Linked DNA regions of Homo sapiens: region 2 is linked to region 1. Evidence: fine-mapped expression QTL. Tissue or cell type: whole blood. Region 1 holds a variant in brackets; the other region holds the start of a gene. All regions are shown on one strand. Distances are between the middles of the regions.

Region 1 (2,757 bases):
TTTAAACATTTGGTGACAAACTCTGGAGTCCTTTTTCCTTACTCCTTTAATCTGGGCTGGTTTTGTGAATCCTGGACAGAGGCGATGCTGCCCAAGTTCCAGAGCCCAGAGGAGGGCCTGCAAGCTTCTTCTCTTGCCCTTTTAGAATGCTGCCCTGAGACTACCATGTAAAGAAGCCCTACTAGCCTTTTAGAAGATAAGAGGCCACAAAGAGAAGAACCAAGGCATCTCAGACAAACCATCTTAGATCATTAAGTCCCAGTAAAACAGCTGAGTGACCTAGGCAAGCCCAATAGATGAAAAGCTCAGCTGAGCCCAGCCCAAACTGCTGACCCCAGAATTATAAGCAAATAAAATGGTAGCTGTTTTAAGCCACTAAGGTTTGGGACAGTTTGTTTTGCAGCAATAGATAACTGATACAGTGCACCTAGACATGACCTCAATTACTGAGCTACAGAATACATAGAAACTGGTAAGACATTAAGGAAATTTAAAGTAAAATTTCACAGAAAAAAAATTCTATAGAGAGTGTAAAACATTACTCAGAAAAAAAGTAGTTTGGTCACAACTGCTATCAGAAAAACTGGCTCAATTTTTCAAACTGTAAAAGACAGCTAAAACCAAGCCATGTTTATAATTTATTTTGACTAGCCCCACTAGGCTTCCAGTGGTCCTCTGGAGTCAATGAGTAGTCTAATGAAAGCAATTCAGGTGACCCTCAAGCCTATCAGGTGAGAGGGAAAAAGAAGCCTGCCAATATAAGGCAAGCAACAATGCTTAATATCAAGATATAGTAAAGTAACTACAGGCAAGTTCTTAGCATTTATATTCTAATAATCATGGAAAACATTTAAAAAATAAATTTGAGTTCAAATGTGTATGTTAAAAACACATGTTAAAACGAACTCTTGGGCAAGCACAGTGACTCATGCCTGTAACCCCAGCACTTTGAGAGGCCGAGGCAGGCAGATTACTTGAGGTTAGGAGTTTGAGACGAGCCTGGCTAACATGGTGAAACCCCATCTCTACTAAAAATACAAAATATTAGCCTGGCTTGCTGCCACATGCTTGTAATCCCAGCTATTCAGGAGGCTGAAGTAGGAGACCCAGAAGGCAGAAGTTGCAGTGAGCAGAGATCACACCACTGCACCCTACCCCAGGTAATAGAGCGAGGCTCCATTTAAAAAAACAAAACAAAAAAACTTTTGTGAACATAAGACAGTAGTATGTATCTCAAACTGCGTGACAGCCTATTTAAAAAGTCATCCCGGACGGGCGCGGTGGCTCACGCCTGTAATCCCAGCACTTTGGGAGCCCGAAGCGGGTGGATCACCTGAGGTCAGGAGTTCGAGACCAGAGTGACCAACATGGTGAAACCCTGTCTCTACTAAAAATACAAAAATTAGCCAGGCATGCTGGCGAGTGCCTGTAATCCCAGCTACTCTGGAGGCTGAGGCAAGAGAATC[G/A]CTTGAACTCAGGAGGCGGAGGTTGCAGTGAGCCGAGATCGCACCATTATACTCCAGCCTGGACAACAGAACAAGACTCCATCTCAAAAAAAAAAAAAAGAAAGAAAGAAAAGTCATCCCATCATTACAAAACAGTCCCATAAAACAGGTATGTTTTAAAAGAAGTGTCATTTACATTTATCAGCTACTTCTACTGCAGCTATAACTGTTAGTGTAATAGACATAAATTATTGTTCTCAAAACAAAAGAATTTACAAATTATAATAAAATAAATATGCAAGGAAAAAAGCAAGCATCATCTACATCATGCAACATTCGTCACAGAGGTTCAATACTCACGTTGACAGCATATCTAATGGCAGCGTCAGTAGTGAGCTCACGGAGCCAGTAAACAAGCACTTGTAGATGCGGCCTACCGAAAAAGAGCATGATGGCACACAGTCACAACTCGCATCATGAATTCACATAGCTGCTCAAGAAAGCAGAGGTAAAGTGGAACGCCACAAATGCCACTGAAATAAACATTTAGTCTTTACAAGCCTAAGTCTCAAAATATTAAATTTTTAAAAACACAGTCAAGCACAAATATAGTGACAATGAAGAGTAAATGTTACACAATCATGTTTAGCACTTAGATTCTCTCTAGGTTTAGTTGCTTTTTTTTATTGAATGAGCTTAGATGTTTGAAAAGAAAAATCTAAAGTAAAGATCTCCAAAATTATAATATAAAGAATTTTTTAAATTCTAGAATTCCAAAATTCATTAAGTCTGCTCATGACAATAAAAGGTTTCAGTTTTGGAGGTATAAGTCTTTGAAATTAAGAGAATTTTTCAGTAGAGTATGTACTGCAATGCCATAAATGGCAACCTGACAACCAATATTTTAAAAGCACAGATTCACAGGTCCTCTAAAATACAGAATATAATTATTCTAAATTCTGGCCATTTAGAGAAAGACAAAGTATGGGTGAACGAACTGCTATCAAGGCAGAAAGTCTTTTAGTCAGGAAAGCAGAATTCTAGACAGAATGAGATAACAGACCACAGATTTGAAAATGGGGCACAAGAATAAAAACCTGAGGCTTTCTTTCAAACCAGTATTTGTGTATTAGCTTAAGCATTCCCTATATAGCCTTGTATCGGAGACTTCCAATCAGATTTTCAGTGACTTCAATGGCTGTTTTCAAAACCAAGTCAAAATGGAAAGGTAGGAAAAGATTTTCTGTAATAAAAATTACTTACATGTTTATAAAATACTCAGACAAGTATGCTTGTAACAATGTAAAACTGA
Region 2 (2,757 bases), 34 kb after region 1:
CAAGCTATTAAAATAACGAAGCCTACATTTCCACATCTATAAAAGATAATACCTACCTATTCCACAGGCTTTTTACGAAGATGGAACGCGAATGTACATCAAGTGCCACATGTTATAGTTGAGGTATTTATTAAAGGCAAGACTTCTTTAAAAAAAAATAAGTCGTTATCAACTCATTACATAGATAATATCAAACTTTTTTCACTCATTATTGCACTCCATGACGGCGTTTGATAATTCATTTTCGTTTAAAATCGCCAAAATCGCAACCCATAAGGTTGAAAGACGCTCATACCCCCATAAATATACCTAAAGTAGAAAAGCATTTGCACGATAACCGGAACATCAAAAAAAGCAAAATTTAGTAATTTCCTCTATAAACTCACCACTCATTTAAAAACACAGCTGGTTAAAAATAATCTACTACCTTCAGTGGGTAAGAAAATGCGTTTGAAGAGACATAAGGTGTGGACGTTTATATCTTAAGTATTCATTTTACAAGGGTCAGTTTGTTCAATGTAACCGTATCCAAAACACAAGCAATCGCAAAACAAAACAAACAGAACCCTGCTTATAGGTGTCAAGGATTTAAAACCAAATGGATCGCAACAAAAGAGCCTCCCCGTTTAGTAAACAGATTCTCGAGCGGCAGGCAAGCCGAGGACCAGGCTTTTCAACAGGGGTCAGCTCACTCCACTCGGCCGTCATCTGGCGGGGTATTTTTCGCGAAGTTTCAAAGTCAACAAAGAAGTTCTGTCGCGAGGGGGTAGGGCCTGGCGAGCAATAGGCAGAAGGACGTAAAGAAAGACAAAACCCAGTGGGGGAAGGGTGCGGAAAACGCCCCCGGACGGCAGCGACAGAGGCCCCCTTTTCTGGGCCAGCGCGCGACGGCGGGGACAAGGGAGGCCACGCCGGCCTGCAGTAGCCCCGAGGCCCCGACCCCGGCCCCGGCCCCTGCCCGGCAGGGTCCCCGCCCCCCTCGGCGGCGCGGGCGGGAAACGGCGGGGGGCGCGCAGAGGGTCACCTTCCGCTCCCCGGCCCAGAGGCCCAGCGGGTGGACAAACGGCCCAGGCGTCCGCCCCGCCGCGATCCAGCAGCCCACCTCGAGCGCCGCGGACCTGGCCGGGGTACGAACCCGGGCGCCGACGCAAGGGCTCGGGCGCCGCGCGTCGCCGACTTACCTTCCTCCGCGGTGTCCATCTTGTCTGGGGGGGCGGCGGTGACGCAGCCACGAGGCTCCCGCGGCCGGGCGGGGAAAGAGGGAGGGGAGAGGAGGAGGGAGCCGGGCCCGGGCAGGTGCGTACGCTCAGGTGCGAGAGAGGAAGCGAGAGGAAGGAGAGGGGAGAGGGAGAGGGAGAGAGGCTGACAGAAAGCGAGCGACACGGGAGGGGGAGGGGCGGGAACACCTAGGGGCGAGGCCTGGGCGGGGCGCCGAGGCGGAAGGGGCGGGAGCTCCCCAACGACAGGCGCTGTCACTTCCGGCGGCCGCGGCGTGCACTGTCGGTCGGCGGCTAAGGAGGGGAGGCACCTGCATCTGGGGCGCGGCGAATCCTCGCGTGCGCCAGGCCGCCTGGGGTAGTCGCCGAGACTGCGCCGGCCAGCGGGGCCGAAACCTAATCAGGAGCTGAGCTTTGATGGCGGCTTCTGGAGGGACAAAGAAGGCGCAGAGCGGTGGGAGGAGGCTGCGAGAACCTAGCTCCCGCCCCAGCCGACGTGCGAGACAAAGGCCCCGGCGCGGGGCTCTTCGGAAGGCCGGGAGGTTCCTGTGACAATGCGAGTCTGCGCCCCACGCTCCCGCACCGTGATGCCGAGGCCAAATGGCTAGAGTGGGCCCAGGCATCAGCATTTCTGTTTGGCAGCCGGGCAGTTGTGGTGCACGTTTTGAGGAACTACTAAAGCCTGCCTGTGATGAAAAAGGCAAAAGCTGACTTCACCAAAATTACTCCCAGGGAGACTTCTGCATTTGGCTGGAAGGACATTTGAGTAAACCGCTGAGGCTGGTGGTTGAAACATAATCCTCTAAGGGAGATCGGTTCCGATACCCTGAGTTAGGGACGCTTGCCTGGGCAGAGCTAAGGGGAGAATGATCAAAAGCCAAGCTCTGTCCCCGTCAGCACGTCACCCTCCCTCACTGTAATCCCTGACTGTTTTCTCTAAATGAAGAATTATTTAGAGAATATAAATTAGAAGGGCCGCCACGTCAGAATTGCCTGAGTGGGAGCAGTCTTTCCAGCCTCGAAAAATGTTTAAACAATATGCAGATGACCTAGCACAAATAAAGAATGCTAGCAACCGCTGTTATGTGTGAGCGGTGGAATTGGGAGGGCTCTTCCCCCAATCTTCATCAAACAGAGTAAGGTTTAGAATAAAAATAATGAAATACAGTCTTTCAAAAAGAGCAGCGCTTGACTAATGTTACTGATGTCACTCATGTTACTCAAGGGAGGAAAGAACTCAAACTCTACATAATAATACCCACTGATTTCAAGGGCTGGCACGGAGAATTAAGCAGACCGCCATTCTTTATATTTGTTTTTTTGTTGTTGTTTGCTTATGATTTTTTTCTTTCTTTTTTTTTTTTTTTTTTTGAGAAGGGGTCTCGCACTGTCACCCAGGCAGGAATGCAGTGGCGCGATAATGGCTCACTGCAATCTCACTATATTGACCAGTATGATTTTCAACTCCTGTCTTTAAGCGATCCTCACGCTTCGGCCTCCCAAAGTGCTGGGGTTACAGACATGTGCCACTATGCCCTGC

Evidence for each region. PIP is the estimated chance that this variant, and not a neighbour inherited with it, causes the effect.
Region 2: MARCHF6 starts here. The variant in region 1 is fine-mapped to the expression of MARCHF6 in whole blood (TOPMed, PIP above 0.99).

What each region holds. Positions count from the first base shown.
Region 1 is chr5:10,386,115-10,388,871 of GRCh38, reverse strand. It overlaps MARCHF6 (membrane associated ring-CH-type finger 6), which reads right to left. Exons shown (of 26, transcript NM_005885.4): 5 at 1,806-1,878. Among named protein-coding and RNA genes, the nearest start is that of MIR10397, 15 kb to the left of the region's middle. The variant G/A (reference allele first, on the strand shown) is at 1,467.
Region 2 is chr5:10,352,342-10,355,098 of GRCh38, reverse strand. MARCHF6 (membrane associated ring-CH-type finger 6) reads right to left here and starts at 1,404. Exons shown (of 26, transcript NM_005885.4): 1 at 1,182-1,404. The coding sequence starts at 1,200. It overlaps MARCHF6-DT (MARCHF6 divergent transcript), which reads left to right and starts at 1,042. Exons shown (of 3, transcript NR_183261.1): 1 at 1,042-1,127. RefSeq lists enhancers at 168-739, 1,586-1,845 and silencers at 796-1,265, 1,306-1,445.